Homo sapiens: one gene and its partners. The protein of the gene in region 4 purifies or fractionates together with the protein of the main gene of each other region. This does not show direct contact. Each region holds a gene or a part of one and is shown on either strand. Other genes may lie near its edges. The genes, in order: ORC4, TOR3A, SEL1L3, GIP, IDUA, EOGT and UXS1.

What was found.
Region 1: the proteins of GIP (region 4) and ORC4 purify together in Homo sapiens (affinity purification with mass spectrometry; one large-scale study listed by BioGRID and IntAct). This does not show direct contact.
Region 2: the proteins of GIP (region 4) and TOR3A purify together in Homo sapiens (affinity purification with mass spectrometry; one large-scale study listed by BioGRID and IntAct). This does not show direct contact.
Region 3: the proteins of GIP (region 4) and SEL1L3 purify together in Homo sapiens (affinity purification with mass spectrometry; one large-scale study listed by BioGRID and IntAct). This does not show direct contact.
Region 5: the proteins of GIP (region 4) and IDUA purify together in Homo sapiens (affinity purification with mass spectrometry; one large-scale study listed by BioGRID and IntAct). This does not show direct contact.
Region 6: the proteins of GIP (region 4) and EOGT purify together in Homo sapiens (affinity purification with mass spectrometry; one large-scale study listed by BioGRID and IntAct). This does not show direct contact.
Region 7: the proteins of GIP (region 4) and UXS1 purify together in Homo sapiens (affinity purification with mass spectrometry; one large-scale study listed by BioGRID and IntAct). This does not show direct contact.

What each region holds. Positions count from the first base shown.
Region 1 is NC_000002.12:147,947,738-147,951,237, reverse strand, and holds part of ORC4 (origin recognition complex subunit 4), read left to right. Parts: intron 1-3,013; coding exon 3,014-3,187; intron 3,188-3,500. UniProt on the Homo sapiens protein: Component of the origin recognition complex (ORC) that binds origins of replication. DNA-binding is ATP-dependent. The specific DNA sequences that define origins of replication have not been identified yet.
Region 2 is NC_000001.11:179,094,283-179,096,496, reverse strand, and holds the end of TOR3A (torsin-3A precursor), read right to left. Parts: intron 1,530-2,214; coding exon 1,279-1,529; 3' UTR 501-1,278; downstream 1-500.
Region 3 is NC_000004.12:25,751,489-25,754,988, reverse strand, and holds part of SEL1L3 (protein sel-1 homolog 3), read left to right. Parts: intron 1-3,500.
Region 4 is NC_000017.11:48,965,797-48,969,885, reverse strand, and holds the start of GIP (gastric inhibitory polypeptide preproprotein), read left to right. Parts: upstream 1-1,289; 5' UTR 1,290-1,369; intron 1,370-2,632; 5' UTR 2,633-2,653; coding exon 2,654-2,739; intron 2,740-4,089. UniProt on the Homo sapiens protein: Potent stimulator of insulin secretion and relatively poor inhibitor of gastric acid secretion.
Region 5 is NC_000004.12:985,713-989,843, forward strand, and holds the start of IDUA (alpha-L-iduronidase isoform a precursor), read left to right. Parts: upstream 1-1,331; 5' UTR 1,332-1,372; coding exon 1,373-1,530; exon of another isoform or gene 1,531-2,096; coding exon 2,097-2,237; exon of another isoform or gene 2,238-3,120; coding exon of another isoform or gene 3,121-4,131. Other genes in the region: SLC26A1 (sulfate anion transporter 1), read right to left, coding at 3,121-4,131.
Region 6 is NC_000003.12:69,003,685-69,007,184, reverse strand, and holds part of EOGT (EGF domain-specific O-linked N-acetylglucosamine transferase isoform a precursor), read left to right. Parts: intron 1-1,950; coding exon 1,951-2,045; intron 2,046-2,702; coding exon 2,703-2,807; intron 2,808-3,500.
Region 7 is NC_000002.12:106,093,302-106,096,801, reverse strand, and holds the end of UXS1 (UDP-glucuronic acid decarboxylase 1), read left to right. Parts: coding exon 1-84; intron 85-2,644; coding exon 2,645-2,776; 3' UTR 2,777-3,491; downstream 3,492-3,500. UniProt on the Homo sapiens protein: Catalyzes the NAD-dependent decarboxylation of UDP-glucuronic acid to UDP-xylose. Necessary for the biosynthesis of the core tetrasaccharide in glycosaminoglycan biosynthesis.

The DNA of each region.
Region 1 (3,500 bases), on a different chromosome or scaffold from region 4:
CACATTTACATGTTCACATCTCCTTTCCTACAACCCTTTTTCTTTTTCAGAAAAGTGAAACTTTTTTCTAATTCATATTTCAACAGTCCTCCTTCCAGTGCTGTTTCTCTATAGAGTGACTGTCATTTGCCCCTCCTTTCCTGTGCTCTAGAGCTTATGATACATGGCTTTAGTATAAACATCCCTCATACATCACTGGCTGGTGCTCCACATATCTTTATTCCTCCTTGCCAAAAGCAGCAGGCGATGACAAGGATCAAAGAAGCATCCTCCTTCTTGCCAAAAAAAAAAAAATCTTCCTTTGGGTGGAAGTGGCTGTGGTGAGTGTTGTTGACCCAATAACGGACCAAATAAAATGCCAGTAACTTCTTAGCAGTGTTATCAGATGTTCTTTTTTATTGTATATATATAATTCTCCAACTGTGTAGTTCTTTCAAGTGTAATTTTTTTTCTTTTTCTTTTTTTTTTTTTTTGAGATGGAGTCTTGCTCTGTCGCCCAGGCTGGAGTACAATGGCATAATCTCGGCTCACTGCAACCTCCACCTTCGGGGTTCAAGCAATTCTCCTGCCTTAGCCTCCCGAGTAGCTGGGATTACAGCCACACACCGCCATGCCTGGCTAATTTTTGTATGTTTAGTAGAGATGGGGTTTCACCATGTTGCCCAGGCTGCTCTCGAACTCCTGACCTCGTGATCTACCCCCCTTGGCCTCCCAAAGTGCTGGGATTACAGGCGTGAGCCACTGCGCCTGGCCTCAAGTATAATTTTATCTGTGTATCCACGTTTATAGGGAGAGAACAAAAGTATAGAGGGAGTAGTGACTTTGCCAGCAAGCATCTTCTTCCCCATTGGGAGTAATTCCATTTTTGTTTTTTGGTTTTGTTTTGTTTTTACTAGTTCCTGTATGCCCACATTGCCAACTTCTGTCATTACTGCCTACTACAAAGACAGTATTTACTTCCATCTCTTTTCATTCCCAAATTTAGGGTCTGAATTGTTGCTTGTATAGATTATTACTTCCACTGTCTACCTATATGGGTGACCTAGAACTCTTTCTTAATAGAAAATAAATGTACAATATCTGAATCTCTGAATATAACCTTTCTTGTCTTTTAGTTCTCATGCTGGCACTATACTTTTCTTTGACCTCATAAAAACATTCAAAATTTTTTATTCACCCTCCCACCTCCTACCTCAGGCTATTAGTCTTTCCTGTCCACCTTCCCAAACTAACCATGATCCCATTTTGATCACTTGAATTCTTTCCTCTATATCATGATTTCTTCACGTAGGTATTATGAGAGTCATCTGGCTAGATGTGGAGATGTATATTTCTGGGCTTAAACTACTCCCCTTTTAAAAATCTTTATAACATTTCAACAATATACATAGGAAAGAATAAATAATGAGCCCTGAATTCCCTTCTCCACTCATTGCCAAGATTCAATTACTACAGACTAATTTTATTTATCCTCAACATCTCCTTTCATTCCTGTATTATTTTGAGGCAAAAACTAGGTATTATATCATTTTATCAGTAAGTATTTTAGAATGTATTTTTAGGAGATAAGAGCTCTTTAAAAATATATTTCCCTAATATAATTGTTATATTAGCTGTAATTCCTTAAAGTCATCAAATATCATGTCACTGTTTTTAAAACAGCTTTATTGAGATGTAATTTATACCATACAACTCACTCATTTAAATTATACAATTAACAGGGTTTTTGTTTATTCATAGAGTTGTGCATTTATCACCACAGTTTAAGAGCCACGTACCTTTTAGTGATCACCCCAAATCCCCTGTTCCCTCCCCAGCCCTATGCAACCACTAATCTGCTAATCCACTTTCTGACTGTTTAGTAATTTTTGAATCATACAACGTATAGTTTTGTGTGACTGGCTTCTTTAACATGTTTTCAGAGTTGATCTGTGTTACAGCATATATCAGCCCTTTATTCCTTTTTATTACCAAATAATATTCTGTTGTGTAGATATACCACACTTTGTTTATCCATTCATCAGTTGATGGACATTTGGGTTGTTTATATTTCTTAAGCTATTAAAAATAATACTGCTGCAAACATTCACATACACTTTTTTTGTGGTTATCTGGTTTCATTTGTCTTGGTTGTATACCTTGGAGTGTAACTTAAGTAATAAATATATATTATACTATACTGTATATATATAGATGTATATATACATATATAATATAAATTATATATATTATATATAATATGCTGTGTACTATAATATATTTTGAAAAATTGCTCAAGTTCATTATTAAAAAGAGATTTAGGAATGACAGTTCCTGCAATATATGTGACTTAGGAAGACAGCTTACCTATTGTGCTTTTGATGTCTTGGATAGTTTGAATGCCTATCAGTTTTGTGGAAGTATTTTCTTCATTTAAGAACACTTCGTATGTCCTTACAAGCAGTACATATTAGTTATCCTTTGGTTTTTAGTGTTCTTTGACAGTAAATTTGATTCCTGATTTCTTTTTAAGGAAAAATAGCACAAATACAAATAGAGTCTAAAAGCATTACTATAAAAAAAAAAAAGCCGGAAGATAACTTACGAATGCCATGTTGCATTTCTGCCACTTTCCTCTCCTAAAGTTGGTTCCTGCTGCCTATCATGCTATTAATTTTTTAATCTCAGTTCTTCATAGAATGTACAGAATTCCTTATTGACACTCTTGGTGTTATTGTGACATATAGCTATTCAATATTGTCAGTTTTTTTAAACAGTCATGTTGGGTCTTGGAATGTTACAGATTAGCTGAGAGTAACATGGTGGGAAAAAGGCATGACATCACCAAGCCAGCAAATGCCTGGAGGTGGATTATTTAGTTTGCATAAAATGTTTTAAATGTTTAATTATGTATTGTAGACTAAACATTACTAATTATAGGTGATAGTTTACTTATACCTCTAACATTGGTACAGTGTTTTTGTTTTTTTAAAAACATTCATCTTCCTTATAGAGATTTCTGTTTGTTTTTAAGGATATTTTGGAACTCTTAGAAAAAAGAGTGAAGTCAAGATTTTCTCACCGGCAGATACACTTAATGAATTCATTTGGTTTTCCACAGTATGTTAAAATATTTAAAGAACAGTTATCTCTACCTGCAGAGTTTCCAGACAAGGTTTTTGCTGAGAAGTGGAATGAAAATGTTCAGGTATCTTAAAAGGCAATAAAGCTAAATGTTCCTTGCTATATGATTTAAAGCAATTAAAACACAAATTTTAGAAATTAGTAAATTAACACAAAGTTTCTAATATTGCTGAAGGATAATGCTGCAGTAATACAAATTATATACTTTTTAAAAATTTTCTTCTTAGACAGTTGAAATGTCATTTCTCCTAAATTCTATCTCAAAAGAACATCACAGTTAAGCTTTAGGATTTATGTTATTAGTTTGAAGTAAACTTTAATGAGGCTTTAGTTTTATCTGTATGTGGTTTATATTTTAGATAATTTTATTTTATATA
Region 2 (2,214 bases), on a different chromosome or scaffold from region 4:
AGGCAGGAAGATAGCTTGAGCCCAGGAGTTCCAGACCAGCCTGGGCAACATAGTGACACCCTGACTCTATATGTGTGTATAATTAATATATAAAAAACATAGGGAAAAAAGACCTGTGTTATTCCAGAGGCATGGGAGAAGAACCAAGAAAAGGGGAAAGGCACATAATGAACACTGTGTCTAGGCACAGTGCTACATGTCTACACGGTGCCATTTAATCCTCAGAATGACTGCTTTTCTTTTTATAGCTGAGAGTACAGGAGTGAACATTTTCATATATAAGAGCAATGTGCTATGGGAGTCTCTTCAGTAGGAGGTTGGCATGACTTGGCTTCACTGATGTGGTCCCAAAGCAAACAGACTAGACAGGCAGACCAGTCACATACCCTGCCAGCTCCGTGTGTGCCAGCATCTGCCCTGTCTCTGCCAGGCCTTATCAGGATTACCCAGTGTTTGTTTGAAATTTTGCTAGGTCTCAGAAACAGAAAGTACGCCAAGGATTTTAGGAAAATCAAAAATTTTAATCTTATCATCTTTACATACAACAAACATGTCAAGACCCCCTATTGTCTTTGAAAAGGTCCCCCCTCCCCCGCCAAAATCTGTAGACCATAAGTCTTGGCCTACACTGACCTGGTTTGTAAAATATCTTCCTCTGTGTACTTTTCCCTTCAGCCTCAGGCTCTTGGCTGATTCGCTCACAACAGAAGCAGCTTGGCTTTCCTCTGGAAGTACCAATTTGAAAGCCCACCAGCCTGCAAACCTAGAGTGTATTCTCCACCCCTGGGTCACAGAACTTCGTTCTCCCCGGCTCTGTAACCCAAGGACCCTACAGCCTCTGAGGCCTAACACCCAAGCTCTTCCTTGCAGAAGAGCTGAGATGCTAAGGAGACCATCTGGAGTGTCATAATAAGCCCTTGGGATTTGCTGAGCTCCCACATGGCTTTCTTCAACCACCTGGCCCACTTTCTTCAACCACATTCCACTTTGGAATGCGTGTCTTTAAGGCACCAAGTGATCTTAAGAATGGGCTCTGTTTTTGAATTCAGCAATCCAAGTTCCTATCTATCTCGGTGGGACCTCCAAAAAAAAGAAAAAGGATTGGCTTGGCTTCTAATGTAAGGCCTGCCTTTTACACACCAGTTGTGTGTTTGTTAGTGGCTGCTGGATGCCAGTCCACACCCTCAAACACCTCACAGTCCCAAACGGGGTGCTCCTACAGGTCCCAGGGTCCTGTTAGTGGAAGAAAGGCAGTTCCAGGAAGTCTTCCTCTAGCCTTCATGACAGGAAGTAGTTAATCCTCTGGGAAATAGACTTGCAGCCCTGGGAAGAAAAGAGTTGTTCCTCCTTGGGGACATACACCATCATCTGGGCTATTTCATCCAGTGTCTCTTCTTTATACAGGAGCTCCTGGCTCAGGAAGGCATCCCGTGCACACAGCCTCACGTGACGGTACTCCAAAGGCAGGAAGGGGATGAAGTAGTCAATCAGGTTTTCCTTCACAAGACGGCTGTGGCCAAAGCCATTGTCTGAAAGCAAGACCAAAGTTACATGGAGTCTGACCTAGGACTGAACCTAGCTGGAATTTAGCGGGGGTGGGGGTTGCTGTTGGTTTCTTTGAAACAGGGGCTTGCTCTGTCAACCAGGCTGGAGTGCAGTGGTGAGATCTGGGCTCCTTGCAGCCTCCACCTCCTAGGTTCAAGGGATCCTCCCATCTCAGCCTGTGAGTAACTGGGACCACAGGCGTACAGCACCACACCTGGCTAATTTTTGTTTTTTTTCTAGAGACGGGGTTTCACTATGTTGGCCAGACTGGTCTAGATCTCCTGGACTCAAGTGATCCGCCCGCCTCAGCCTCCCAAAGTGTTGGGATTACAGGTGTGAGCCACCACACCTGGCCCCGACTGAAGGGGCTGGGTGAGGTTGGATCTCATCTCTCAACTCCAGGAGTGCTGTCTGCAGCGTATGTCAAGAACTCTACAGCTGTGTCTCCTTTAGGTAAAGTCTTGCAGTGAGACTCAGAGTCTCAGGCTTCAGAGACCACTGCGCCTGTTCTTGGGGCCAGTGCAAACTACTATTTCCAAGCATTCCCAGAAAAGGAGCTCAGGCTTTCTTACCACTTTTCTTGTGCCCACCCAGGGTTGACAATGTGAGATGATTATAGTCTGCCCTCTGTGTTCCCAAGTACCCTGTCTGCTTCATAAACACACATTC
Region 3 (3,500 bases), on a different chromosome or scaffold from region 4:
CCATTGCCTCTCACATAGGAAATATTTTGAAACATATTTTTTAGTACCTTGAAATGAAATTCATGATAATTAACCCATCTACACACATTTTTAAAAATCAATATAGGGCCCTAACAGCAATATAAAGGGGAAATAAAAAGAAACTAATTGTAATAAAATAATATTGATTTCAATAAGTACATTCTAGCCCAGTGCTTATAAATTTTAATGTGCATATGAATCATCCAGCATTCTTATTAAATGCAGATTCTAGTTCAGTAGATTTTGGTTCAGTAGGTAAGCCCTGAGATTTGGCATTTCTAGCAAGCTCCTAGATGATGCCCACACTGCTGTTTAGTAAGAGCATACTTTGAGTAGTAAGGGCCGAAAAGTATAAAAAAAAAGAAAAAGAAAAAAACTCCACACATTTCCAAAATGTGCCCCGACAGTGGTACCTGCCAGCCCTGTTAGAACTAATGTTAAGAGTTGAAATATGGGACGGGTATGGTGGTTCACTCCTGTAATCCCAGCTACTTGGGAAGCCAAGGCATGAGAATCGCTTGAACCCCGGAGACGGAGGTTGCAGTGAGCTGAAATTGCACCACCACGCTCCAGCCTGGGCAACAGAGTGAGACCCTGTGTCAAAAAAAAAAAAAAAGTTGTCAATAATTTTTATATTTATTTATTTATTTATTTTATATATTTTTGAGATTGACTTTCGCTCTTGTTGCCCAGGCTGGAGTGCAATGGTGCAATCTCAGCTCGCCACAACCTCCACCTCCTGGGTTCAAGTGATTCTTCTGCCTCAGCCTCCCGAGTAGCTGGGAATACAGGCATGCGCCACCACGCCTGGCTAATTTTGTGTTTTTAGTAGAGACAGGGTTTCTCTGTGTTGGTCAGGCTGGTCTCGAACTCCTGACCTCAGGTGATCCACCCACCTCAGCCTCCCAAAGTGCTGGGATTACAGGTGTGAGCCACTGCAACTGACCTTATTTATTTATTTATTTATTTATTTATTTATTTATGTTGAGACGGAGTCTCACTGTCGCCCAGGCTGGAGTACAGTGGTACAATCTCAGCTCACTGCAACCTCCATCTCTCGGATTCAAGTGATTCTCCTGCCTCAGCCTCCTGAGTAGCTGGAATTACAGGTGCACGCCACCACCCCCAGCTGATTTTTGTACTTTTAGTAGAGATGGGCTTTCGCCATGTTGGCCAGGCTGGTCTTGAACTCCTGACCTCAAGGGATCTACCTGCCTTGGACTCCCAAAGTGCTGGGACTACAGGCATAAGCCACTGTGCCTGGCCTATCAATAATTTTTAAGTAGGAAGTTACTCCAGCAGTACAGTGAAGCTGATGGGATGATGGGGCAGGGAAATCGAGGCATGGAGGAGGTGAGGAGAAGCTGCTGCAAAGGCGATGCTGCTCAGAGACCAAGTTTCTACCATTTGGTGTCTCCCCAGTGAGCTGGTGCACAAGGTCCTGAGACCTGCCCCACAGCTGGGGGAAGACAGGGATGGGTGCATGTAGCAGCCATGGCGTTGTGAAACAAACTTAATAATGAACTCTGGGTGCTGACTGACTGTAAAAAAGAGGAAATGTATTTGAGAGTTAGGAGCCTCCCGTCAGCAGCTTTGGGTGAGGATTGTTGCTATAAGTTAGAGAGCTTTGTCATTTTGTGATTTGCATTTTTTCCAGTCAGTTGTATTTAAAAATTAATGATTTATAGTCAAGACTTGCAGTTGAGCTGTCCATCCATTTTGCGTTCAGCTCCAACTACCTTCATTTTCCTCCTGAGTTTATATGCTCTGTGATATATAGTTGACACATCATGGCATTTGCCACATTAAATTGTCCTGCATTCAGAAGGCTAGCCGCGCAGGACGGTGGTTAACAGCATCGGTGTGGGAGGCACACTGCTAAGATTCTGGCCCTGCCAGTAGCTAGCTATGTGACCTTGGGCAAAGGAAGGAGCCTATCTGTGCCTCAGTTCCCTCTTCCGTAAATAGCAGAAATAGTAGTACATCCACTGCCTGTTGTAGTTGAGATAACCAAATGAGGTAACACAATGTAAAGTGTTTAAAACTCCACAAATGGGCTGGGCGCAGTGGCTCACGCCTAGCACTTTGGGAGGCCAAGGCAGGCAGATCACCTAAGATCAGGAGTTTTAGACCAATCTGACCAACATGGTGAAACCCCATCTCTACTAAAAATACAAAAATTAGCGGGGCATGGTGGTGCATGCCTGTAATTCCAGCTGCTTGGGAGGCTGAGGCAGGAGAATCACCTGAAGCTGGGAGGCAGAGGCTGCAGAGAGCCCAGATTGCTCCATTGCACTCCTGCCTGGGCAACAAGAGTGAAACTCTGTCTCAAAAACAAAACAAAACCACAAATGTTAGCTGGTAGTTCTCAAGGAGTATGTCCTCTGGGGCACTGGACCTGTAATTAAAGCATGCTGACACTAGGTAATACCCACACATAAATAGCTTGATTTACCTCAGAAACAGACATAATGACCAAAGCCTAGTATGTTTTTCTTTGCTGTTAGGACTCTTTCTAAAACATTCAACTTTTTTTTTTTTTTTTTTTTCGGAGATGGAGTCTCACCCTATTGCCCAGGCTGGAGTGCAGTGGCGCTATCTCGGCTCACTGCAACCACCGCCTCCGGGGTTCATGCCATTCTCCTGCCTCAGCCTCCTGAGTAGCTGGGACTACAGGCACCTGCCACCACACCAAGCTAATTTTTGTATTTTTAGTAGAGACTGGGTTTCACCATGTTGGCTGTGCTGGTCTTGAACTCCTGACCTCAAGTGATCCGCCCGACTCAGCCTCCCAAAGTATTGGGATTACAGGCGTTAGCCACCGCACCTTGCCCATTCAACTATTTTTTTTTTTTTTTTGAGATGGAGTCTTACTCTGTCGCCCAAGCTGGAGTGCAGTAGCATGATCTCGGCTCACTGCAACCTCCGCCTCCCGGGTTCAAGCGATTCTCCTGCCTCAGCCTCCTGAGTAGCTGAGATTACAGATGCACGCCACCACACCCAGCTAAATTTTGTATTTTTAGTAGAGACAGGGTTTCACCATGTTGGTTAGGCTGGTCTCCAATTCATGTCCTCGTGATCTGCCTGCCTTGGCCTCCCAAAGTGCTGGGATTACAGGCGTGAGCCACCGTGCCCAGCCCATTCAACTATTTTTTAAAGCATTTCAACAAAAACATTGACTGATCAATAAAAAATACCAAGATAGCTCAATTGATACTTTCAATAGATTAGTCAATGTCTTGATCTTCATCATATATACTTATATATATAAAGAATATATACTTATATATAAAGAACATATATTTATTTATATATATAAAGAATACATATAAATATATGTATTCTTTCCTTCAAGGGAACTTGTGTTTGACTCCTGGCTCGCATTCCACCAGGCAGCTCAGTCTTTCTTGCTGCTTATACCTCCCACGGTGGTGGAAAGGTCCCTGGGTCTGGGTGGTCCTAGGGTCACTCAGATAGTC
Region 4 (4,089 bases):
ACCAAAGCCATAGGCCACTGTCCAGAGCTGGGATTCAGATGACTGTGGACCTACTCTCTCCCACCCAGAAGTAGCCTGTTGCCTTGTGGGAGTGTCCCCCTGCCAGTTAGTGCCACCCTACCCCAAGTCTGTCTTCACTACAAGTACCCTTTTTTATTTTTATTTTTATTTTTTGAGACAGAGTCTTGTTTTGTCACCCAGGCTGGAGTGCAGTGGCACGATCTTGGCTCACTACAACCTCTGCCTCCAGGTCTGGGTTCAAGCGATTCTCCTGCCTCAGCCTCCCAAGTAGCTGGGACTACAGGCACGTGCCACCATGCCTGGCTAATTTTTGTTTGTTTTTTTTTTTTTTGTTTGTTTGTTTGTTTTGAGATGGAGTCTCGCTCCGTCGCCCAGGCTGGCAGGCAGTGGCGCCATCTCGGCTCACTGCAACCTCCGCCTGCCGGGTTCACGCCATTCTCCTGCCTCAGCCTCCCGAGTAGCTGGGACTACAGGCACCTGCCAACATGCCCGGCTAATTTTTTGTGTTTTTAGTACAGACGGGGTTTCACTGTGTTAGCCAGGATGGTCTCGATCTCGTGACCTCGTGATCCACCCGCCTCGGCCTCCCAAAGTGCTGGGATTACAGGCGTGAGTCACTGCGCCCGGCCCCCTTTCTTTTTTCTTTTCTTTTTTTCTTTTTTGAGAGAGTCTCTCTTTGTTGCCCATGCTGGAGTGCAGTGAACTCGATCTTGGCTCACTGTAACTTCTGCCTCCCAGGTTCAAGTGATTCTCTTGCCTCAACCTCCCAAGTAGCTGGGATTACAGCCGTGCACGACCATGCCCAGCTAATTTTTGTATTTTTAGTAGAGACTGGGTTTCACCATGTTGGCCAGGCTGGTCTCGAACCCCTGACCTCAGGTGATCCGCCCGTGTCGTCCTCCCAAGCGCTGGGATTACAGACGTGATTCATCGCGCCTGGCCTACAAGTATCCCTTCTAACTGAGGGCAACTGTAAAGGAAGTAGGGCATAGAAGAATAGTAGTGGGCCCTGTGCCCAGAAGGGAGGAGGAGGAAGAAAAAAGGGGGTACTTAGGGTACCCTACCCACAGGCAGGCCCCAGACAGCAGCTGGAGATAGCCAAATGTTAATCACCAATTAGCACAGTTCAGGTGGAAAGGGCAACTCTATTATGTGTAAAATGGACTTAATGTGGCAGGAGCTGTGGGCTTAATTTCTTGAGATAAGATGCTTTTAGGCTAATCAGCAGGTCTATGCCTAATATAAAGGAGCTGGGGCATGATTTCTTCAGCAGGCTCAGAAGGTCCAGAAATCAGGGGAAGGAGACCCCTATCTGTCCTTCTTCTGGAAGAGCTGGAAAGGAAGTCTGGTAAGAGAAGTGGAGACAGGGATGGATGAGATGACCCGAGAGCAGATGGATCTTGGCAACCCTGAGATGCTCAGCAGCCCTGGCATCTTAGTTTTCTCTTCCTCTATATGAGATGTGAGAAGATAGTCAGGTGCGGTGCCTCATGCCTGTAATCCCAATACTTTGGGAGCCGAGGTAGGAGGATCATTTGAGCACAGGAGTTCAAGACCAGCCTGGGCAATGGAGGGAAACTCGATCTCTACACATAATTTAAAAAATTAGCTGGGCATGGTGGTACATGCCTGCGGTTCTAGGTACTCGGGAGGGTGAAGTGAAAGGTTTGCCTGAGCCCAGGAGGTCGAGGCTGCAGTGAGCCACGATTGTGTCACTGCACTCCAACCCGGGTGACAGAGCGAAACCCTGTCTCAAAAAAAGAGAAAGAGAAATGAGAAGGTAGCGCTGATGTTTCCTTTATTTATTTATTTAGAGATGGAGTCTCGCTCTGTCACCCAGGCTGGAGTGCACTGGCGCAATCTCGGCTCACTGCAACCTCTTCCTCCCAGGTTCAAGCGATTCTCATGCCTCAGCCTCCTGAATAGCTGGGATCACAGGCGCGCACCACCACACCTGGCTAATCTTTGTCTTTTATGTAGAGACAGGATTTCACCATATTGGCCAGGCTGGTCTCAAACTCCTGACCTCAAGTGATCCGCCCACCTGGGCCTCCCAAAGTGCTGGGATTGCAGGCATGAGCCACTGCACCCAGCCTGGTCCATCTTTTGGTAAGATTCCATGTCCCTTCTAGTCACTAACTCCAGTGCACAGCACCCCTCATCTTCCCCCATGGTGTTGCCCCAGGCTCTTAGAAAAGGTCCAAACTGGCAAGGCGCGATGGCTCACGCCTGTTATCCCAGCACTTTGGGAGGCCCAGGTGGGCAGATCACAAGGTCAGGAGTTCGAGACCAGCCTGGCCAATATGGTGAAACCCTGTCTCTACTAAAAATACAAAAATTAGCCGGGAGTGGTGGCACATGCCTGTAGTCCAGGCTACTCGAGAGGCTGAGGCAGAAGAATGGCTTGAACCCAGGAGGTGGAGGTTGCAGTGAGCCAAGATTGTGCCACTGCACTCCCACCTGGACGACAGAGCGAGACTCCATCTCAAAAAAAAAAAAAAAAAAGAAAAAGGAAAAGAAAGGGTCCAAACCTCAGGGCTTTGCCCCTCTCCAGCTTTCAGAACCCCTACTGGTTGCTCTCTCAACATGTCCTGGCTTTTTTCTGTCTTAGCTCAGGAAATAACCTTGGAAGATGGTGGCCACGAAGACCTTTGCTCTGCTGCTGCTGTCCCTGTTCCTGGCAGTGGGACTAGGAGAGAAGAAAGAGGGTCACTTCAGGTAGGAGTGGTGAGAGGAAAGGGATGGGGCAGAGGAGGGGTTAGGGGATGACAGGTTCTGGATTTGTTTCTAGGGGGAGATGAGAAAGGGAAGGAATCCAGGCTAAGAGGTAGGAAGCTCCAGGGAAATACCTGCCGGCAGCGTGAGTGCAAAGTGAGCACTGAGCCAGAGAGGATTTATTGTGTGCTGCTGTTACAGTGGGAGAGACTATGGTTAGATCTCTGGCGGGACTTCCTGGTGGTTAATTGTCCGAAGATGACAGAATCTCCCTTCCCAATAAATGTTTTATTCATTTATGCATGTTTGCTTCTTTCTTTTCTTTTTTTCTTTTTTCTTTTTTTGAGACAGGATCTTGCCCTGTCGCCCAGGCTGGAGTGCAGTGGCGTGATCGCAGCTCACTGCAGCCTCTGCCTGCCAGGCTCAAGCATCTTCCCATCTCAGCCTCCCGAGCAGCTAGGACCACAGGCATGTACCACCACGCTCGGCTAGTTTTTGAATTTTTTGTAGAGATGAGGTTTCGCCATGTTACCCAGGCTTATGAATGCATTCTTTTTTTTTTCTATTCTTTTCTTTTTCTTTTTTTTTGGGGGGGGATGGAGTCTCGCTCTGTCACCTAGGCTGGAGTGTGGTGGCACAATCTCGGCTCACTACAACCTCTGCCTCCTGGGTTCAAGCAATTTTCCCTGCCTCAGCTTACCGAGTAGCTGGGATTACAGGTGCCCACCACCACACCCGGCTAATTTTTGTACTTTTAGTAGAGATGGGGTTTCACTATGTTGGTCAGGCTGGTCTCGAACTCCTGACCTTAGATGATCCATCCACCTTGGCCTCCCAAAGCGCTGGGATTGAAGGCATGTAATCCCTGTGCCTGGCCCTTTTTTTTTTTTTTTTAATTGGAGTCTCACTTTCTCACCCAGGCTGGAGTGCACTGGCGCGATCTTGGCTCACTGCAACCTCCGCCTCCCGGGTTCAAGCAATTCTCTGCTTTAGCCTCCCAAGCAGCTGGGATTACAGGCACCTGCCACCACGCCCGGCTAACTTTTGTATTTTTAGTAGAGATGGGGTTTCACCATCTTGGCCATGCTGGTCTTGAACTCCTGACCTCGTGATCCACCTGCTTGGACCTCCCAAAGTGCTAGGATTACAGGCGTGAGCCACTGCGCCTGGCCTGTATCATGTAGATGTTAAGAACATAGATCTGAGCCCAGATGGCCTGGGGTAAATCCTGGATCTGTTACCTATACGGAGTGGCAGATAATAAGACAATAATAAGGTAATCTCTGCACCTTGGTTTCTCCATTCACAAAATGGGGATATAAATAGAACCTACCTCATAGGATGTTGTGAGGA
Region 5 (4,131 bases), on a different chromosome or scaffold from region 4:
AATTTGGAATATATACACACTATTTCACTTTTAAATGGCTAATCACTTTTAATGCAATTTCAACATAAGAAGACCTAATGTTAAGCAATATTTTAACCCCTCTCCCCAAAATAAAAAGACCCAGAACACTGTAACTCTAATTATCCTTCTCCCAACTTAGAGAGGATTATTGTCCAGTATTTTCGTTTTGTTAGTAGACTGTTCTTTTTTTCTTTTCTTTTTTTAGAGATGGGGTCTCATTTTGTCAACCAGGCTGGAATGTAGTGGTGTGATCATGGCCCGTCTCAGCCTTGAACTCCTAAGCTCAAGCAATCTCCCACCTCAATTTCGTGGGTAGCTGGGCCTCACAGGCATATACCATCGCATCTGGCTAAATTTTTTTTTTGTACAGATGGGGTCTTGGTACATCTCCCAGGCCGATTTCAAACTCCAGGCCTCAAGTGATCCTCCCGTGTTGGCCTGCAATTCCAAAGTGCTGGGATTGCAGGTGTGAGCCACCGCACCAAGCCTGTTCTTTCCATTATTATTTTTATACAATGTTTGCTTGGATTCACACATGCATACATGGACTACACATGTACTACAGTTGTCCCATGGTATCCTCGGGGTATTGGTTCCAGGACCCTCCCAGATACCAAAATTTGCAGGTGCTCAAGTACTTGATATAAAATGGCACAGTATTTGCACATTACCTACGCACATCCTACTGTGTAGTTTAAATCAAGATTACTTATAGTCCCTAAAACAATGTAAATGCTCTGTAAATAGCTGTTATACTGTATTGTTTTAAAATATGTATTATTTCGTATTGCTTTGGCTTTAAAACAATATTTTCAGTCTGCTTGGTTGAATCCATGGATCTGAAGCCAAGTGTAAGGAGGGCCCAGTGTGCTCTTCTGGGGTAATTCTCCTTCCTGCTAAAGCGCACGCTTTACTCAGGAGGCTGGGGTGAGAAAATCGCTGAAGCCCCGGAGATGGAGGTTGCAGTGAGCTGAGATCGCGCCACTGCACCTCAGCCTGGGCGACAAAGCAAGACTCTGTCTCAAAAACACACAAAAACAGAGAAAAACAAGACAGTAATGGCTCAACTCACATAGCACCAACGGGCGAAGCGTTCTTCTGAGCGCTTTCCGAGTCATCGGTCCTCAGAGCAGCCCCTGAGGCCCGCAAGGAAGCGGGGCTCCAAGCCCTGCCGTGCTCCCGGCTCCCCGAGGCTCCCCGAGGCCACCCAACCCCTCCCACCCGGCCATCGCCCCCTCACCAAGGCCCCGCCCCGCGGCGGCGGTCACATGGGGTGCGCGCCCAGACTCCGACCCGGAGGCGGAACCGGCAGTGCAGCCCGAAGCCCCGCAGTCCCCGAGCACGCGTGGCCATGCGTCCCCTGCGCCCCCGCGCCGCGCTGCTGGCGCTCCTGGCCTCGCTCCTGGCCGCGCCCCCGGTGGCCCCGGCCGAGGCCCCGCACCTGGTGCATGTGGACGCGGCCCGCGCGCTGTGGCCCCTGCGGCGCTTCTGGAGGAGCACAGGCTTCTGGTGAGCGCTCCGCGGCCTCCGGGACCCCCTGGCCGCACGGGGAGAGCTCGGGCGCCCCCTGACTGCGCACTGTGAGAGCTTCAGAGACCGGAGCTCCCTCCTCTGGGGCCCTGGCTCTCCCGGGCCCGCCCCCCGCCGTGTTTGTGGGTGGGTCCTCCACCTGAGTGGGCGCCGGGGCGTGAGCCTGGGCCGCCCCCTGCAGCCCAGGCCGATGCCCGGGATCCTGCTCTTTGAGGTAAACCAGGAGTCTCCCCTGGGAGTGGACGGCCCTGCAGCGGGACCTGGCCTGCCTGTCCCATTCCTTCCACCTAGAGCTGAGGTACCCGCCTTCCTGGCAGGGCCAGGGCCAGGGCTGGCGTTGGCCCCTCGTCTTACTGCTGCTGCCGTTCCCCATGAAGATGGGACCTCCCCACATTCCTGGCCCTAAGGGTCATTTTATTAGTCACTGAACGCACGGGCAGCGCCTGGATCCTGCGCCCGGGCAGTCCTGGGCTTGAACGTGTGTGTCAGCCGCGCTGCCAGCCATGCTGAGGCTCGGGACTGAGCCGCCCCTTTGTTGTCCCCAGCCCCCCGCTGCCACACAGCCAGGCTGACCAGTACGTCCTCAGCTGGGACCAGCAGCTCAACCTCGCCTATGTGGGCGCCGTCCCTCACCGCGGCATCAAGCAGGTCCGGACCCACTGGCTGCTGGAGCTTGTCACCACCAGGTGGGCGGCGGGCAGGGTCTGGGCGTCCCAGAGCCCCTTACAGAGGCACAGATGGGAGGGGAGGGCTGGGGGCTGCTCGGAAGACCCCTTGTTCCCCCACCTCCCGCCGAAGCACCCTGTTGGGGAGAGCGTGTCCTTGCTGGCTGTGCTGGGGTGAGGGCTGTGTGCTGGAGGGAGCCCCTGCATGGGGCACGGTGGGCTTCCTGCAGGTCTCCCTGCAGGCTCAGGGTTGGCTGCGCCGCACCTGGCTCCTGGTGCACCCGTGAGCATCCCTGTGTGTGTCTGCTGGCCAGGCTGGGTAGGGCCACTGCACCTGAGGGCTGAGCTGAGGTCTCATCGGTCACAGCACCCTGGGCCCTGACGCTGGTGCAGGTGGCCACCCTGTGAGGGGGAGGCACGAGGTGTGAGGGGCACTTGGGTGTGTGGGGCCTTCTGGAAACACAGAGACCCTCGTGCACTTGGCCAGAGCCGCTGGCTCCTACCAGCAGGGTGGGCACCGGGCAGGCCTGGGCATAGGGAGTCCTCTTGGCACCTTGGAGGCTGCATGATGGCGGGGGACCCTTGTTCAAATAAGATGTCAACCCTGAGCGTCAGGTCAGGCCCATCCCTCCTGAGCTGAGGGACGGTGCATTGGGGCCCAGCCAGCACTGTGGGCCAGCCTGTCTCGGAGGCAGAGGTTCTTGATTTCTGAGTGTTTGGGTCCTGCGTGTGATCAGAGGGCCTCCTTTCCCAGTTGGGGTTCCCCGGTTTCCCCAGGGCAGCTGTGGCACAAGAGTGCAGCTCTTGGGTGGCTCCTCCCTGGGAAGGGTCTCAGCAGTGGCTTGCAGACGTCTGCTGTGGGTCCCCAGGAGGGAGCAGAGGCTGCTGGGCAGGCCTGGCCCTGCTACAGATGGGCATCGGTGGCCTCCAGCTCCCTGTGGCGGGCTCGTGCTGTCTGCACGGCATCGTGCACACTGAGGAACAGCTGCTCCTCCTCAGCCGTGTCCCCGGGGCCCTCCCCGAGGAAGCCTCCTCTGCTCAGAATGTCTCTCACAGGCGGGCTGCAGCAGGCTAGCAGCAGGCTGATGCCCAGGGCCCCGTAGTCTCGGCGCAGGTCCTGCAGCGTGCTCACACCGGCTGCGTCTAGGAACAGCAGCGGGGCGCAGTCGATGACCACTGTGTGGAAGCCGGCCGCTGCGGGCACCAGCGCAGCCCTGGTGCTAACCGGGCCCAGGTCCTCGCCCTGGGCAGGGCCTCCCTCACCGACCCCCGTCTCTGAGCCCCCCTCCTTCCTCCTGGCAGCCATGCACCCTGCGTCCAGCCCCGTGAGGCTGTAGAGTGACTGCAGGAAGAAGTCCTTGTTGGCATAGTACAGCGGCCCCCCAAAGCGGAACACCCGCACGCCGGGCTCAGGGACGAGGCCCTCGAACTCTGTGGCATCCTCGTAGAAGGCCGTGTCCCCGATGCGGGCCAGCAGGGCGGTGCGTGGGCGTTGGGTGCGGCCGGCCAGGCTGAGCAGCGAGAGGATGACGCCAGCCAGCAGCCCGGCCTCTGTGCTGACCAGCATACAGGTGGCCGCGGTGCCTGCCCAGACCAGCGCGTCAGCCGGGCTCATCCGCCACAGCCGCGGGAGGTCCCACACCTTGCGCAGGGCCCCCCGCAGGCTGACCACGATGACGCAGGCCAGCACGCTTCGCTGTAGGTCGTGGAACAGCGGTGCCAGCGCCAGCAGCACCAGCAGCACCACGGTGGCGCTGACCACGCTGGACAGCTGTGTCCGGCAGCCAGTGGCTGTCTTCACCAGGCTCTTGGCCAGGGCGGCGCTGGTGGCGAAGCAGTGGAGGAAGGCGGGTAGCACGTTGCAGCAGCCCACAGCCAGCAGCTCCTGGTTGGCACGCACAGAGTAGCCGTGACT
Region 6 (3,500 bases), on a different chromosome or scaffold from region 4:
CCACATTTATCAGATAGTCATATTTTAAGACAGTCGAAATATTTTTAGGTTTAGAATCATTCCCCCAAACATGTGCTAATGAAGAGAAATTGATAAACTGCGTCTTTACAAATTCATTCTCAGATAGTTTGGGACAGATGATATAACACCACCATACTGCTCTATATTTGCCCAGAGCTTTACAGTTTGCAGAAAGCTTTTCTGTGTGTTATCTCGTTTGATGCTTATAAGCGTTATAGCAGATACTACTGATGCCACTTTATCAGTATGGAAAACAGGGTCCTCAGAGGAGTTAAGCAACTTCTCCAAGACTGCACAGCTACCTTTTAAAATTAATTACACATCTAGGATTAAAATGCAGGTTTTTTTCCAGTTTACTTTCAACCATACCATATCGTACCTCAGTGGATCAGATAAACACGTTGTCAAGAGGTGGTTTGGGGTAGTAAATACAAGAGCAGGCTCTCAACTACAATTCAGATCCTGAGTCTTAGACAAGGTACTTAGGCTTTCCTTGTTTCAATTTCCTCTGCCTTAAAGCCATGCCCATTATGTAGCATATGGTAAGGAAGAAATGAGGTTCTGCAGATAAAAATGCTCAGTGCAGCAGGGCCTGGTTCCCGGCCAAGGGCTCAGCATTATTTTTTAAAGGTTGATGAAGTTGTAAGCACTTACGATTAAGGTACACTGTTCAATGATCCTGAACCCTGAGTCTCTGACATCTCAGGGGTCTCCGATCTCCAACCACACTGGAGAACTAAAAAAATTTTTTAATTTACTCACATTCAAAAACTGAGTATATACTTTATAGAGCTATTGGAGGGTGTCACGTAATAGAGCTTTGAGCATTCTAGCAAGGTGAATGAGGCCTCAGGATGTGAGGCATGCCATTAAACTGCACGGCCGCAGGGTGTCTTTAACAGAGTTCTGTTCTGTCTTGCACATTTGGCTCAAGTCTAGCTGTTCACATGGAAAGGGCAAGATAATAATGACAACCCCTATCTTGCACTCCTCTTTCAAGGTGGCTTGTAGAATGTTCTTTTGATTAAGATTTACCTTGATTTGCTTTGTGCTAGCAGAGTATGATCCTTGTCTTAGTTGTTTGGGCTGTTATAACAAAATACCATAGACTGGGTAGCTTCTAAACAATATCATCACATTGGGGGTTAGAATTTCAACATATGAATTTGGCAGAGACACGGACATTCAGTCCATTGCAATATTTTACCAACTACAGACTCCAAAACACCATGCAGGTCAAGATTGAGACTTTGTGTTCATTGGGAGTTTTGGGAAAAACAATTAAAATGGCATTTAAATCTATAAATAAAACCCAGAGCAGATAAAAGTTTTTGAAGTTCTGAGCATAACCCAGATTGGTTGAAATAGAATCAGGCTCTGGTAGCTGACTCTTCGACTCCTTTCTTCAATTATTTAGAAAATATTGCCCTCATGTTGCTGTTGAGACAGAGGCTCCCACAAGCTTTACGGTTTGCAGAAAGCACCTCTTATTAAAACTGGCAAACTTCCCTCCCTGCTTTTAATGTCTCTTACATGTGCATTTTTCCTTGTTTCTTTTGGCTTTTGGAAGCTGCTTTTTCATATAGCTGTGGGGGTAGTAGTACTGGATCTGGGTACTTTTTTTTTCTTTTAAAGGGGACTGAACTGAGCCACATATACAGCTCTTGGCTTTAAAATTTGAGGTGACAGATCGTTGGGGAGTTTTCCATGGTAACTTAAAAGTGGGAAACTGGCAAAAGTATGCTTGGCCAGGGTCTGCTGGGAAGGAGAAAATATCCTTCAGCAGATGCAGTCTTTGGAGAGCTTTCCTTGTCATGTTGTGTGGTTTGAATGTGAGGGTATCCGTGCTGTCAGTGTGTCTAGCAAGTCCGGATGAGTCTTTGCTGTGTTAATACTCAGAGTCATTCTTTTCTTTTGCTCAACCTTCAGAGTGACTCAAGTCTGGTGTGTTCCCGTTATCTTCAGTACTGCAGAGCAACCAATCTCTATCTTGATTTAAGAAACATCAAGAGAAATCATGACAGGTACTTTAGTGGTTAATGTTAACATCTAGTATAAATTCTGAAATATTTTCAGATCCAGGGATTTTTTTTTTTTTTTTTGAGACAGGGTCTTGCTCTGTTGCCCAGGCTGGAGTGCAGCGGTGTAATCATGGCTCAGTGCAGCTGTGACCTCCCAAACCCAAGTGATCCTCCCACTTGAGCCTCTCAAGTAGCTGGGATACAGAAGCGCACCGCCAGGCTTGGCTAATTTTTTAATTTTTGAAGAGATGGGGTCTTCTAACGTTGCCCAGGCGGGTCTCAAACTCCTGAGTTCAGGTGATCCTCTCACCTCAGCCTCCCAAAGTGCTGGGATTATAGGTGTGAGCCACCAAGCCTTGCTGAAGGGGTATATCTTGAATTTGTTTTTGATGATATGGCAGAGGGGTTGGGGAATGGGTGGGGGGATGGATGACTCAGACAGGCCATGAGTTAATCGCATTGCAAAGTTGGGTTGTGGATACATTAGGGTCCTGATAGGATTCTGTTACTTTCATATACACTTGAAATTTTCTATTGTAAATAGTTAAATTCTTTTAAAAAATTCAGTTTGGAAATTGGTAATCCACTTTAGTTACAACCCACGTGCTTGGGTCATGAAGACGTTTTCTGAACTTAACTTAATGTTTTGTTATATACCAGATTTAAGGAGGACTTTTTCCAGAGTGGTGAAATTGGAGGGCACTGTAAACTTGACATCCGTACATTGACGTCTGAAGGTCAGCGCAAAAGCCCTCTGCAGTCATGGTAAGATATTTTTAACGTATCTGTTTCGGAAATATTTGCCTTTATTTACGGCACTTGCAGATATTAATGGAGACTCTCAAATGGAAAATGTTACTTCATTTGTACATAATTTGGCATGAGCTTCTGGGAAGTGACGGAAACCGAGTGAATCCCTCAGTTGCATCTGAATTAAGTATGTGTTTATAATAGTAGATACAGTACTTACTGTTTGCTAATGAAAGAAAAAAATCAGCTTAAAAATCCATTTTTATTAACTCACAATTGCCAAGTTTTATTCACTTACAAAGTCACATAGGTTACTTACATAATGTTAATTTTTGAGGTCAAACGTCCATGCCAAGGCCAGGAATGGTGGCTCATGCCTATAATCTCAGCACTTTGGAAGGCCAAGGTAGAAGTATTACTTGAGCCCAGGAGTTCAAGGCCAGCCTGGGCAATATGATGAGACCTCAAATCTAAAAAATAAAAATGTGTTTTGGGGAACCCATTTAAAAAACAATACACATATATTAAAGTATGTAAAAGCATACAGAAAAAGGTACAGTTTGGATTGTGAAAAAGTGAACCCACCCATGTAACTTTTACCCAGGTCCAAAAATAGAACATTGTCAGCACCTCAGTCTCCCTCCCAGGCTCTACCCCCATCCCCCTCTCCAAAGGTAGATGCTACTCTGACTGTTAACATCATTGGCC
Region 7 (3,500 bases), on a different chromosome or scaffold from region 4:
TTTCTCTCCGAAGCCCAGGATGACCCACAGAAAAGAAAACCAGACATCAAAAAAGCAAAGCTGATGCTGGGGTGGGAGCCCGTGGTAAGTGCAGGGAGTTAATGCTGCCTTGTGGGGAGGGGCCTCCCGTGTCCTGTGTCTGCTGTCCTGTAGGCACTGACCCTTGTCAGACAGCCCCCGGAGGAGCAAGGTGGGCTCGGCATCCAGGCAGATAGAGGGTTTTCTCCAAGTGGTAAACAGCCTCTCCTGTATCAGGAGTCTCAGAGAATGTTACCTGGGAAGCGGCTGGAAGCCCCTGCTCTGGGCTCTGTTTTCGTAAAATCTCTCATGCACACACACATTCTTACATTCTCTCATACACATACACTGCCATACAAACACTTGTACACACATATACTCACACTGTCTCCCACACACTCACACTGTCATATATACACTGTCATACAAACACACTTAATACAAGTATACTCACACACACTCATTTTCACACATACATATACATTCACACTATCATACACATTCTCACATTCACTCACATGCGCACACTCACTGATCCACACTCACATTCACACATACACTCCCTCTCCCACATACATACACACACACACACACACACACCCCTGACTGTGAACGCTGTGCCAAGGGCGCTGGCAGCACACGCTCAGAGCCCTGCGTAGCCCCAGTTGCCTGCCTATTGAGTGTGCGGGGCCAGGTCAGGGGCAAGTGGTCCCCATCAGCCCCGCAGTGGAGCCCCTGGTTGGAAGCGTGCGAGACTGAAGGGTGTGGAGGAAGGGGAACTGCATGCCTTCCTGTTGTCTTCAGTGTGTCTACTGAAGGGGGCAGGGTGGGGCGGCTGCTGCCTCCCTGGGGCTGAGCCTGAACCCCGCCTGCTTCTGCTCTGCCGCCTGCTGTGCCCTTCCTGCCTTGGGTGACTGCAGGCTCCTCCCCGCCAGAGAACGCTCGTCCTCAGGGCTGCCTGTGTCCTTCAGAGACCACCTGTGTAGGGAGGTTGGCTGGGTTGGCCCCATCTATAGAAGCAAGCCCACCTCATTTACTGTCACCTCTGCCTGGCTGTTCCCTCTTTGCCCACCCTCATGTGCCCCACTGAAATTCGGGCTCCCCTCGGGCAGAGGCGTGTAGTGTAGCCCTGTGTCCAGCAGGAGCCCGGCACCTGTCAGACCTGACACACACTGGGTGCTCAACAAATGTAGGAGCATCTTGGCATGGCCCTTGGGTTGTGGCGCAGTCAGAGAGTCAGGGACGCAGTTGAGAGCTCAGTTTACCTTTTTAAAATGTGCATAGTCAGAGCTGAGTGAGTAGAATCCTAGAATATTGAACTTCAAAGGGACATGAGAGTTCCAGCCTGATCCTTATTTCATTCTGTCATGTACAAGTCTACGTAATCTGCTAAAAACTGCAGAAATTTGTTGAGTGAAATAAAAATACAATTACACCCAGACTTCACAAAATCGAATAATCCCAAGCTGTGCAAAACAGGTTATAGCAGCCTAGGTTTCTTGTTTTTTTGAAGCTTTGTAAGGGGCCATTGGTCCCTTTGTAAGGAGAGCCTATATTTTTAAACAAAATATTTTTTGAAGATTTAAATATACATTCACTATGTATTAACTATTGCTTTTTATGTGAGGTGTGTGTATGCTCAGTATCTTTATCTTTCTGGAATTTAGACCTATAATATTCTAACATTCTTGGAATGTGAGCCATCTACCACTGGTTTCTCTTCTAGTAGTAGTTTTAATTTATAATAAATTTTTGAGGGATATGATCCAAAGAAACTTACAGGCATTATCCATCTTAATTGTCCCAAGTGTGTGTGTTTAACAGCTTGTTGAGATATAATTGGCAAACTGCACACTGCCCATATTTAGAAGATACAATTTGATAAGTTTTCATCTATTTTGACACCTGTGAAACCATCGCTGCAGTCAAGCTGACAGACCTTCTCCCCCAGTGGTGCCCCAGCACCCCTTAGCAGTGCCTCCCTTCACCTTTTCTCTTTCTGCTGTTAATCAGCAGTTGATCTGGCTGGTTTCCTGTTGGCTGCAAAGCAGCTTCAGATGAAGGTTGCTTTCTGTGGTGTGGGCTGCCGTGGGTCCCCTCTCAGACTCAGCCTCTTAGTATGGTGGGGGTGCAAGTGGGCCATGATCCGCTAGGCAGTGCAAAGGGTTGATGTCACGTGGGAGAATCAGGCGTGTTGATCAGATGCAGATCACCTTCCCAAAGCATCTTCCCGCCACTCCAAGGTGGATTTCTTCTGAAAGAATGGGGCACATGGGCATTATCTGAAAAACAATCTTGCCAGCCGATTCAAACTGGAGTAGACATTATACCAGCAAGAGGTAGTCGGGGTCTTTTGTGAGGTGGAGCTCACTTTACGTCAGTAAGAGTGACACTTGTCAGCTCCACAGTACATTCTGAAAGCGGCCCTGAAGGACTTCTGGCTTCTCTCGGTGGGCCGTGATGCTGGATGCTGTCACAACCAAAGCATGGTTCTGTGAGTGTTCCTCTGAAGGAGGCCTGACTGGCTGCAAGGTGGCACTTCCTTCCTGCAAGGTGGCACTTCCTTCCTGCGATGCCCTTCTGTCAATGTGACCTTGTCTCCCTTTCTTGCTTTCCCTTTAAACAGGTCCCGCTGGAGGAAGGTTTAAACAAAGCAATTCACTACTTCCGTAAAGAACTCGAGTACCAGGCAAATAATCAGTACATCCCCAAACCAAAGCCTGCCAGAATAAAGAAAGGACGGACTCGCCACAGCTGAACTCCTCACTTTTAGGACACAAGACTACCATTGTACACTTGATGGGATGTATTTTTGGCTTTTTTTTGTTGTCGTTTAAAGAAAGACTTTAACAGGTGTCATGAAGAACAAACTGGAATTTCATTCTGAAGCTTGCTTTAATGAAATGGATGTGCCTAAAAGCTCCCCTCAAAAAACTGCAGATTTTGCCTTGCACTTTTTGAATCTCTCTTTTTATGTAAAATAGCGTAGATGCATCTCTGCGTATTTTCAAGTTTTTTTATCTTGCTGTGAGAGCATATGTTGTGACTGTCGTTGACAGTTTTATTTACTGGTTTCTTTGTGAAGCTGAAAAGGAACATTAAGCGGGACAAAAAATGCCGATTTTATTTATGAAAGTGGGTACTTAATAAATGAGTCGTTATACTATGCATAAAGAAAAATCCTAGCAGTATTGTCAGGTGGTGGTGCGCCGGCATTGATTTTAGGGCAGATAAAAGAATTCTGTGTGAGAGCTTTATGTTTCTCTTTTAATTCAGAGTTTTTCCAAGGTCTACTTTTGAGTTGCAAACTTGACTTTGAAATATTCCTGTTGGTCATGATCAAGGATATTTGAAATCACTACTGTGTTTTGCTGCGTATCTGGGGCGGGGGCAGGTTGGGGGGCACAAAGTTAACATATTCTTGGTTAACCATGGTTAAATATGCTATTTTAATAAATTATTGAAACTCACCAGTCATGGAC